3 linked regions of the Homo sapiens genome follow. The protein of the gene in region 1 interacts with the protein of each later gene in a biochemical or structural test. Each region holds a gene or a part of one and is shown in the gene's direction. Other genes may lie near its edges.

Evidence for each region.
Region 2: the proteins of SCHIP1 (region 1) and PTMS form a complex in vitro, tested with the Homo sapiens proteins (one large-scale study listed by BioGRID).
Region 3: the proteins of SCHIP1 (region 1) and ZC3H13 form a complex in vitro, tested with the Homo sapiens proteins (one large-scale study listed by BioGRID).

What each region holds. Positions count from the first base shown.
Region 1 is NC_000003.12:159,271,913-159,276,057, forward strand, and holds the start of SCHIP1 (schwannomin-interacting protein 1), read left to right. Parts: upstream 1-1,331; 5' UTR 1,332-1,908; coding exon 1,909-1,971; intron 1,972-4,145.
Region 2 is NC_000012.12:6,765,229-6,769,364, forward strand, and holds the start of PTMS (parathymosin), read left to right. Parts: upstream 1-1,134; 5' UTR 1,135-1,477; coding exon 1,478-1,522; intron 1,523-4,136.
Region 3 is NC_000013.11:46,046,045-46,049,746, reverse strand, and holds part of ZC3H13 (zinc finger CCCH domain-containing protein 13), read left to right. Parts: intron 1-3,702. UniProt on the Homo sapiens protein: Associated component of the WMM complex, a complex that mediates N6-methyladenosine (m6A) methylation of RNAs, a modification that plays a role in the efficiency of mRNA splicing and RNA processing.

The sequences.
Region 1 (4,145 bases):
GATGATCAATTTTTTTTCTCAATTTTTTTTTGGATATTTTAGCCTTTGGAATAAAATATTCCAAATTTTATTTGGATATTTTTCTCAATTTTTATTTGGATATTTAGCATAAATTTATTTGGATAAAAATTTATCCAAATAAATTTTTATTTGGATATTTTATTTGGATATTTTAGCATTCTCAATTTTTATTTGGATATTTTAGATACGCGGTGAGAAGCTGGTGAGGCAATATTTTCCTGATGAGATGCCAGAACAATCACCATTGCTTTAATAGAATTTGTTCAGTGGCACTGGTTGTGTGGAAAATTGTTTTCTCCTCAGATTTATGGTTTTTTCTCAAAAATATGACAGAATACTGTGCTCTTAAAGGAAAGCTGCTTTTGTTTGATCCATTTGGCCTTAAGGGAGGGAATACATTTAATAAGCACTAATTAGATTAGTTTCAAGTTATTCTTCACTTGGGCTATAAGAATTGTTTAGTTGGCATGAAAGGGGATTAGATAATTTATTAACTGGCATAAATGACAATTATGGCTGAAAATCATAAATTATGGCATATGACTAAATAGAAAGAGAAAAATATGTTGCAAAGAATGATCATGGACATTGCTCATTTAAACATTCTTTAAAAGAATATGTGTACTATGAATTACCAGTTAGGTGTGCAGATTAGTAATAATATAGCTAATTTTCTATTTTTACTTTATTCAGAACTGAAAAACATCTAAAAATAGTGAGTTAAAGAACGTTTTTCTTTAACCAACACTTGAAAATATACTCCAATCGTTTCAGAGATAGTAAGATGTTTTTATGTTTATATAACTTTTTAATTTTGTTACATAAACTGTTGTTAGAAGTTGAAGATGGTTTCCTTAATTTTTATTTTGCAATCTTTATGGATTGAATTAAAAAATAATTTTTGGACATGCTAAATATTCTGAGAGGTGTTTAGAAGTAGATTCTATATCCTTAGAGAGCCTCTAGTTCCCACAGCAGCTTCTCCAGGGAAAAGCCCTTCTTCACTATATTCACCACAAATTAATGGCAGTTATTCATTTTTTAAAGCAGTACCAGAAGCTGATCTTAGCTTAAAGGGGAGGCTTCATCTCACATATGAGCAGCAAATTGATTTTCTCTTCATGGCACTGTATCGATAGGGTTAAGTATTTTGATAGAAGACCATGCTATTTAATATAAGTAGATTTTCAAGAAAATCACTATGCTAAATACTTCACTAGAAGGACTTTATCTATATACAGCAGCAACTGTGACCTGCTTTAGAGATGACATCATTGGGTGTCATGTGGCTCTTTATACGTTTCAGCCTCAGAAAGAGATAATCTGTGAAAGCCACAGAGCCTGATTTCTGCTGTGATAATCTTCAGCAGACCGAGGCTGGGGCGAGAATGAGGCAGACCTGTTTACATGGTGTGTGCAGTGCCTTGTGGAATTCTTAACTCTATTTTATTGTATTATTTTTAATCGAAAAGTAGATCAGATGATAGCATGAAGTGAATCGGCTGCTTTGGACTAATGGGATCTTCTTTTCTGCATTAAGATCAAGAACTTTTCTGGAATCCTCTGTTCTCCGAGTAGCCTTGTCTTCTCTGTGTGTTTTATCAATTTGAAGAACACTGGCAAAAATCAGCAAACTTCATCTCCCAAAAAGCTCTCGCTCTTTTTTGCCAATACTTGAAGATTTCTGCTCCAAAATCTACTTTGAGCTGCTTGAGCATGGTGGTTGATAACCGAAGGGCAAAAGCATCACTTATTTAGTGTGTGTTATAGAAATTTTTTAGACAACCTTACTAGCTAACCCAGGTGACCCTTTACGGATTTCTTTCAAAGCCAATTTGAATAAACAACTCTTCCCTCTCAAATGGGCAAGAGTAACTCTTCAGCACCATGGAGAGGTCCGGGCAGCGTGTTACAACGTGGGACTGTGACCAGGGCAAGCACTCTGACAGTGTAAGTTTTACAAATGTCTACCATCTATTTTAGGTGTATCATATTTTTACAAATGAAGAGAGAAAACTTCAAAGTCGAACTAAGTAACTTTAAATTTAAGCTGATGGCCTTCATTACATTTTTAAATTCAGAATTAAGCATTTAAGGTATATTGGAATGTTCATTTGAAAAAAATACTTTCTCATTGCATAGTTAGTATGTGGATATTTGGTGCTTTGAATTTTGAGAATCTAAGTTTGAGTGTTCTTTTTTGTAGTGCACCAAAACTAATTGCATTGCAGTGGACTTTGGAAATAGCATTTTAATATACACATGTAAATAGTTCCAAATGTACAATCTGTTGCCCTTTGTATGCACAAGACTCTCTTTGGAAAGTAGTTCCTGATTTGTACAGTTTGGGAAGATCAGTGTTAAACTTTTTCAATTTAGATTATACTTTCAGTTACCAAAAGAACAAATGTCTAGGTATTCTAATGTCAATACATGGGAGATATTTGATGACTTAAAAAATCTCAAATTTATTGGTATGAAATGTATAGAGTGGCAGCTTATTATAAGTAGAAATAACAGACAATTTTATAAAATTATATATGGGCTATTGAAATAGTACTTTTAGCATTATTGAAAATAATTAGTTTCAAAATGTTCAATTTAAATCTTCAAACCAGAAATAAAAAAAATGGTTTCTTCAAAAACATCTTTTAACTCCATCTTTTAGACTATCAAATTTGTAGTTCTATGATATTATTATATGACACAACCAACGAAGAAATAATACTTTGAATTACTACCCAGAATGACCCCAACAGATATTTTGATTAGCTATTCAAATTTTTTTCTAAGAGAACATATTGTCATTAAAAAGTAACTTTAACAAATCATGATTCTTTTCTCAGGCCAATTAAACTTAGTTTGGAACATTTATTTATGCAGAATCATTTATTTTAAAGCCTAATAAAATATATTTTTATATAATTGTATTATAAAATTTATTTCCTTTAGTAGTTTTCTTCATATTTAAAAACCAGTAGTAAATGCAATTTACTCAGCTTGACCTCCAATTCAAATATAATGGATTCTTTCTGTTATGGATAATTTCCAAGTGAATTACTGTTGCTTCTTAACTCTTCAGTAATTTGGCATTTGATTTTGGGATAAATGGTACTTACATTTTGACAGTGTATGAAGTGCATAATTTTAGAGGATGTAACAATTTTATATAAAGGAGACCTTAGTATACATTTTTGTCATCTTTGCTCAATAGATCCACTGATAATTTCCATAATTGATGTCAGTATTTAAAAGGCCTCAGTTTTTGAAAAGAATGAAAGGTAGATTTATGATTTCAGTTTTTTTAAGTTTCATTTCCCAAAATTTTATTATTCTGCTTTGGTTTAATAGGTAAGTAGGACTTTTCACACACCATTGCATGTACCTCTGTGATTTTAAACTTAAATTGTTCCCTTATGGCAAACTGTATCCATTTGCAGCCCCTGATGAACTTTGAACAAATCATTCTGGTTTATTAAATTGTACATTCTAATCCAGAAGAATCCAAGACTCATGTCATAAAACGCATCTGCTTGCTGTGAAATGGTGTCAGATTTTATTCTGATTCAGAAATTTATTTGATCTTTGTCTCTGTCTCTCTGAAGGATGTGACTCATTTGTGATATTGTCAGAAGTGTAACTTTTATATTTGCTGCTTTTTTTCCAAACATTTTAGTGATATATTTATAACTATTATCCAGCACACACATTTTTCTGTAGTTGAGATATTGTTGTCTATGTATTTATTTAAGCAGAAATTGTTGCTGTATGACAAACTACAAGCACATGTTTGCTTCTGTTTTGATAGCCTTTCAATCATTATTGAAACAGTCACCTGAACAGTAGAAAAATGTTCAGAGCTAAACTGTTAGATATTCACATTTCTTTTTCTTTCTTTCTTTTCTTTTTTAAATAACATTCTGGTGGTAGCAGATGTATGTGAACAATCTTAAATTTAGTTGAGTGACATTTTGCTTTTCTTGCCAATGTAAAAATATGCTCCCAGATCTCTTTACTGTGGTCCACCCACCCTTGCAAGGGATTTATAACCTTTGGCTACAAAGAATGTAGGGGCATATTTATTTATGAAAGCCACCCTAGTTAGGATGCTTTGCAGGGTGGCT
Region 2 (4,136 bases), on another chromosome or scaffold:
TGAGGATGTGTGGAATAGGGTGGGGCTGGAACTCCAGACCTGGACCTGTATTATATTTGCAAAGGAGGCAAATATAACCCAGAAAGGCTAGGGAAGATGGCAGCAGAGGAATGAGAAAAGCTGAAGGATGGAAAATGTAAAAAATGAGGACAGAAAGAGGAGTTGAGGAAAGCCAGCCAAGAATAGAGGGCCAGGTGCCTGACTCAGATAAGACAAGAGCAGGGTTGTCTGGGAAAGATAGGGAAAGAGACCAGAGGTGGAAGGGCAGAAGAGAGTCAGTGAGGAGTGGAGAAGAGGTGAGAGAAGAATGGGAGCGATTCGAGTTATAATTGGTTGTGAAGGAGGGGTCTAGGTACAGATGACTGAGGACGGATGAAGAGAAATAGAAGGACCAGGCGAATAAAAGTGAGGTGAGACGGGCGAATAAGAGAGGTAGAAGATGGAAGAGAGCTGGAAGACAGCAAAGGAGACCAGGGGGCCTGACTCCCCCCGGCTCACAGCACGGGGCCAGGAAGGGAGGCACCCGGCAAGGGTCACAAGTGTCAATCTGGCGGGACAGAAGGCTGGGCCGCCCTTTCTGCCCTCCCATCCCTCCTCAAGGCCATCCAGAGAATGTGGATGGAGGATGAGAGGGGGAAATCCGGCGTGGTGTGGAAGGAGCGCCCGAACCCTCTTCCTCTTCTTTAAGCTTTTGGTTTCTCAAATACCTGCCCTATCTTCCCATCTGCTCCCCTCACCCCACCCCTTGGCAAAATCCCAGGGCTTTTTTTGGGGTCAGTAGGATTCTGGCCACCTCTCCAGTCCGCCCCCAAAAGCCAGACTCCACATTCGCAGGCAGTAGGTTGGGATTTGGAAAGGTGCCTCCCCGCAGGAACCCCACCCCTTCCCACCTCCTCGCCCCACTCTTTCTCCGCGGCCGTCAGTCTCTCCATTTCCCCCTCCTGGTCTCGTCCTCCCTCCCGACTCCCTAGCTCTCCCTCCCCTCGCTTTCATCCTCCTATCCCCACCTCTCCAACCTCCTCTTTCATCCCCCTCCCCTCTCCTCTCCTCCCCGCTCCCGCCTGCCCCACCCCTGGGAAGCCCCTCCCGTCGGGCAGCGCCGCCTTATAAGCGGGTTCCCTTCCCGGGGGCGGCAGCGGCTGGTCGGCGGCAGCTCTGCTGGTGCGGGGGCGGCGAGCCCGGGATCGAGCTACCGCGGCCGAGCGCGCCGGCCACCGCCTGCACCGCCCTTCCGCCCGCCCTCCGGACGGCCGCAGCCCTGCGGGTCTCCGCTCCAGACCCACCCCCGCCCCACCCCGCGCGCCTCTGCCGCCTCTTCCAGAGACCCAGCTTGCCGAGCGGCCGCCGCTGCCGCTGTCGCCGCCGCCGCCGCCACCGCGCCAGGTTCCGGCCGCGGCCACCCTCCGCCGTCCAGGGCCCCTCCGTCTCGGCCCCGGGACCCCGGCTCCCCGCCAGCCCCGGCCCCGGCCCCGGCACCATGTCGGAGAAAAGCGTGGAGGCAGCGGCCGAGTTGAGCGCCAAGGTACGGGCGGGGGCGGCGGCGGCCCGGACCTCGCGCAGCCCTGGGGCCCGGCGCGGTCCTTCGCCCCAGGCCGCCCCCGACGGCCCCGCGCGGCCCTTGCGCCCGGGTCCTGGCGGACCCCACTGCGCCCTCCCACCGCTCCCCGGCCCGGAGCTCCTTTCCCGGCTCCGCGCGGCTAGCGCCAGCGCCCTCTAGCTGCCCTGCGCGCACCACGGCGCCCGGCCTCGCCGCTCCGGTCGCGCCGTCCCCCGCAGCCGTCCCCACCCCTCTTCGGCCCCACCTCGCTGACCGGATCCCGTCCGGCTTCCCGTCCGAACGCCCCGAGTCTCACTTTGCCGCGCCCCCTCCCTGCGCCCCGCTGCCGCGTCTTTGCTTGCAACCTGACCTCACCTTTCCTCGCTAAGCGGTTTGAGATCCTCAAGTGTAAACAGGACTCTCCCTGGAGGCTGCTCCTCCGGGCCCCTCCCCGCGGCCCGACCGTCGCTCGCTTCTCTCCCCGGACGGCGGCCGCCTCTGTTTTCTCGTTCCCTCCCCTCAGCTGGCTTTCAGCTTTCTTTTCTCTTCATCGTCCCCTTCCCGCATACACACTGAAAGAATCTCGAATTCCTAAAAATTAGAAGCGGGGCAGGACTAGCCTTCGAAAAAGCCGAGGCTGGGCATTGCATGGCATTGCGTCGAGCTGTCCTCGCCCTCATCAGCTCCCTTCCCCGGCCCCATCCGTTCGCCCTTGCCTCTCTTCCAGCCTTCCTCTAATTTCCCCAGGGAACCTGCGGAGTGTCGCTTTGGGAAATTAACGCGGCCGGGGTTTGGGGGCTGGGAGCCCTATCTTGTGTGTGTATGTGTATGGCGGGGGGGGGGGGCGCGGTGGTTGCTGAGGGGCCGTCACACAGGTCTCCCGGAGGCCCGCGGAGTGAAACGGGGGGAGCCAATGGGATTAACGGCGGTGGGAGAGGGGCTGTGTGCGATCTGCCAAGGTGCGCCCGTGTGGCCCTCCGGCGGGCTGTGCGGTGGCATGTGACTTCACTGAGTAGGTGTCTTTGTATGTCTGAAATCCAGCGAGTGTGTGGGACTGCCCGTGTCAGTTACATGTGTGCATGTGGAGACGTAGATGTTCTGGAGCCATGTTGTCGCTTTGTGAGTGCTGAGTGGCTCCGCTGTGCTCCCGTGCTGTCTCAAGAGTGTGGACCAGAATGGCCCAACGCTGGGCCATGTGTCTCCCATCGCGTGGGTGCTCCTCTCTAACTGTGTCTGTGCATGGCTGTCGGCCGGTGTCGGTGTGTGTGCCTGTGTTGAGTAAATGAGGCCAGAGGGCTGCTTAGCAGAAGACCTAGGGCCCAGGTCACATATTCTCCTGGAAAAGGGATCATGGAAGGACAGTGACCAGAAGGACAGAACAGGGGAGGAGAGGGCCCGGCCCCTTGAACTTTGGTCTCTGGTATTCTCCCTCCCTGCATCAGCCCAGATGGGAAAGTCAGGCCAGGGCCATACAGACTTTTGGTGCTGGGGCCCCCAGAGAGAAGCTGACCAGCTCTTTGCTCTCCTGGCCCAGGACGTAGGGAAGAGCCCCCTAGGTAGTGGAAATGCCATACTGACCTTGTGGCACAGAAATGAAGACCTCACGGTGGGGTGGAAGGGCACCCTCTCTGGAGTGAGAGTGAAGAGTTCTGAGCTACCCTTAAAGGGAGAAGGGAATTGAGTGCCCCCCAGGGCAGCCGTTCTGCACCAGGCTCCTCTCCTATCCCCTATCCTGTTCCAGAAAGGACCCCCCCGCCCAGGGTGATCTCACACAGGAGACTTCCATTCACATGGAATCAGATACACAGCGTGGCACACCAACACCAGATCAGATCACACAAGGACACCTACCGTGTTACACTGTGCCTGCCAAGGAGTGGGTGGGGAGAGCACTGGAATCTGAATTGGGAGGCTAGTGTAGTGTCCAGAAGGGACTCAGATGTGCCATATCAGCACAGGACGTCAACCTATGCCTGCTAGGATCTTGGGGTGAAGGAGAGGGGCTGGCTGGTGGGAGGGTCTCCTAGACTGGTCCCTCCCTCTTCTCCATTCCTATCCCACCCCAGTCACAGACCTTGTTTGTTGCTCTCTCCTTGTTTCCCACGCCTGCTACTCTTCCCCTCCTTGTTTTCTCTTCTACTTCACCTACATTTCCACCGTAAATGGCTACTTCCACTACACCCATGCATACACCATGGGAGGCAGGGATAGAGGAAACTACTTGAACTGTTTTGGGGCGGGGAGGGCAGAAAGTGGGAGGGGTGCTGGGAATGTGCTAAGGTGTAGTGTTTGGCCAAGTAGGGGCCTGAGGATTAGGGAGACACAGATGGAGAGAAACAAAGACCTTAGAAGCTGAAGGGGAAGCTGGGAGGGATGCCCAGGAGAGAGAGTCCTCAGGAAAAGGCCCCAGAGGTAGACAAAAGGCAGAGCTGGGCGGGCAGTGGCGGGGCAGGCAAGGGAGGCGGAGGGACACAGGAGGGGGCGGGGCACTGAGGCTGCAAGCAGATGGAGAGGATTTGCTTTGCTGAGCTGAACTCTTCAGCCAGTGAGGTTTGGGAGAACTTGATGGGGGTGGGGATCATTACCCTGGTTGCCCGCT
Region 3 (3,702 bases), on another chromosome or scaffold:
GTTTCCCGCCCCGAAAATCTACATTTTAACTGTTGTGGTGTTCATTTTCCTTTACGGGCCCAAAGTTTTAAATAGGATTGAAAATTCTAATTGTCACATTAGTTGGTAACATTTAGTTTTAATATATGAAAAAGGAAATGTTTTTCTGCTGTATTGTAGATAGTGTGTATATTTTTAGATAAATGGGATTTTTAAAGTTATATATTGTGTTCTTTACAAGCATGAAGCATTTTGTTTATTCAAATTCATGAATGTCTCATTAGTAATATTTAAGTAACATTTTATTGTTGACTACTTGTGGAAGTTTTTACATGGATGATCAGAAGAATTTTTTCAGTTAGAAATCTTCAGTTTCTGCTTTTTTCTTTTTTCACCAGACGTTTTACACACACACATATATATATCACATTAAAGAACATTTTATTAAGAATATGTGTGTGTGTATTATTGTTGTCATTATTCTTGTTTTAAATGTTCAGTCCAGGACCTTGCTGTAACCCAGACCGCATACTCAGATGCTGTATTACTTTAGGACAAAGTATGGTACTCTTGGAGTCTGAGAAAAAGTAGAGTACATCTTTTTTTTTTTTTTTTTTGAGACGGAGTCTCCCTCTGTTGCCAGGTTGGAGTGCAGTGGCGCGATCTCGGCTCACTGCAACCTCCACCTCCCGGGTTCAAGCGATTCTCCTGCCTCAGCTTCCCGAGTAGCTGGGATTACAGGCGTGCACCGCCACACCCAGCTAATTTTTGTATTTTTAGTAGAGACGGGGTTTCACCATGTTGGCCAGGATGGTCTCGATCTGTTGGCCAGGATGGTCTCAATCTCTTGACCTCGTGATCCGCCTGCCTTGGCCTCCCAAAGTGCTGGGATTACAGGCGTGAGTCACTGCGCTTGGCCACATTTTTACTTAATTTCATTTCTTCGCTAAATTGGGAGACTCAGTACAGTAGTAGCTGCAAGTGAAATTCCTGGGATAATTACTATGTAGGTGAATCTTGAATAGTTCTTGATGTCACTGGTAAAAGCAATTTTGTCTCTGTGGAAAGAATATGGGCGTAGGGTGAGGGAGGTGAGGAGGTGGATCATTAGTCTTCACTTGATTGTCTTTCATAGCAAGTCCAACCCTTGAAATCTTCAAAGTTTTTTTTTTTTTTTTTTTTTTTTTGAGGCGGAGTCTCACTCTGTCACCCAGGCTGGAGTGCAGTGGCGCAATCTCGGCTCACTGCAAGCTCCGCCTCCCGGGTTCACGCCATTCTCCCGCCTCAGCCTCCCGAGTAGCTGGGACTACAGGCGCCTGCCACCACGCCCGGCTAATTTTGTTTTTGTATTTTTAGTAGAGACAGGGTTTCACCATGTTAGCCAGCATGGTCTCGATCTCCTGACTTCGTGATCCGCCCGCCTCGGCCTCCCAAAGTGCTGGGATTACAGGCGTGAGCCACCGCGCCCGGCGAAATCTTCAAAGTTTGCCTTAGGGAGTCTAGGATTGGAGAGAAGCTCTCAGACCAGCAAAGCAATAGGTCAAGGGAGGAGAGTAGTGCGAATCAGGCAACAGAGGACAGACCAGAAAAAGAAACTGTAGAGTTAATACCTGGAACCCTCAAAAAGTAAAAAGAAAGGAGATGATAGATGACCAATGTTTTAAGTATAATAAGTACGATAATAAATAGCCTGTCGTCCTAACTGGAAACCATTACCATTGAATTTTTTGAAGGAGACTGAGCTGGGAGTGGAGGCATGTTGGGGGTAGTAGAGATGTTGGGGGCAGAACTAACTCATTTCCAGTGACAGTGGAGGGAAAAATAAAAAATTAGTGTTAGTCCACTTGAGGCAGTGTGGTGGGATGGTTGTGCCTGTTTTCTAAGTTCTACATAACTAGCAAATAAGGAAATTTTGGAACCTATTCAATTTTGTTTATTAAGAAATGTTTTAAAAATTGAATTATTGGTTGAGGATTACTCTATATTTGTATATTAATGTAGCAATATATAATGAAACTTTATGTTTTTCTCAAACTTCTTATACATTGTGATACATTTACTTATTATTGAATCATGCTTGGATATATATTGTTAAAAAAGTTTTTCTCAAAGCTCTACATTTTCTAGATCTTTCTCAGCTCCACTTCTCTTAGCTTTCAGTTTTTTCGTGCTCAGTAAATCAAATAGACATAGGAAATTTTACCAGCTTCTCCTCCGTATGTTCACATTTCAGCTGAGAATGAGTCTAAGAAAAATTAAATCAAAGATTATCTTATAATGCTAACACCAGTATGTAGAATTGGTGTGTAGTTCCTTACTTGGAGAACAATTAATATTTAATTGATTTTGTGTTGCAGCAAATTATTGTTTATGTGATGCTCTCCACTGGTTCTTAAATTTATAATTACTGTGAAGTAATTCTGTTTTTAAAATCACTAAAAATTAATTGCTATTATATCAAAAGAATTATTACATTTTATATTGATAAAAATATAGATTTTCCAATTTAAAATCACCATATATTATTTCATATTTTCCTTCCTTGATGCACCATCTTTTATTTATCAAATGTTGTTCTTAGTCTTTGGATTCTTTTAAAAGTGTGACCTGAAGTACCTCATTGAACCAAACACTGTTTATAATTTTTTATTGCTGTTTCAATTAGGTACTACCACGATTTAATTTCCTTTAAAGTGATATGTCTTTACTTTGAAACCACATTAAAGATTTGTGATCTTTATAGAGACTAAATGAAACTTTTTTAGCTGCTGTGGTTCATTCTAGTAACTTTTGATGATTGATAAGATTTCAACTAATATTTAGTTTGTATAAAGCGGGATATAGTATGGTGTTTTTTTTCCTTCCCCTTATGAGGCAGTTTCTACCCTCTTCCCACAGTAGTGTATGCTCTGGATTGTATCTTGGTCTAGAATTTAATATTGTTTTCTAATGTCATAATATACTGTCATTATCTGATACTTGCAAATCTAGTTGAATTACCCAATTATGTCATTGGATTAGATTTTTACTATAGTTTCAGTTTTTGAATGTTTTATTTACATACATATATATATATAGAGAGAGTTTTTTTGTTTTTTTTGAGATGGAGTCTCGCTTTGTCGCCCAGGCTGGAGTGCGGTGGTGTGATCTCGGCTCACTGCAAGCTCTGCCTCCTGGGTTCATGCTATTCTCCTGCCTCAGCCTCCAGAGTAGCTGGGACTACAGGCGCCCGCCACCATGCCCAGCTAATTTTTTTTTTTTTTTTGTATTTTTAGTAGAGACGGAGTTTTGCCATGTTAGCCAGGATGGTCTCGATCTCCTGACCTCATGATCCGCCCGCCTCGGCCTCCCAAAGTGCTGGGATTACAGGCACGAGCCACTGTGCCTGGCCCTTAAAAAATATTTTTATGTTTACATCAAATCTAACAGAGCTTAAACGTAAAATAAAATAAAAATATTTTTACAATTTGCCTTTTTTGTTATTACTAATAATGGTAAAATAGTCTGATAATTACTTTTAACACCTTTGAATTTTATGTCAGTGTAGTATAGATTATAGAAACACCTCGACTTTTTCTAGTTCTACAGTCTGTCCTGTTTTGAAAGTTGTTTCTATCAACATTGAGTTTTGTTTTGTTTTGTTTTTGTGTTACTGGAAAATAAATATGCTTGATCAGATTGTTTTGACTTCTGTCAGGCAAAGAAAATACTAAAATATCATTC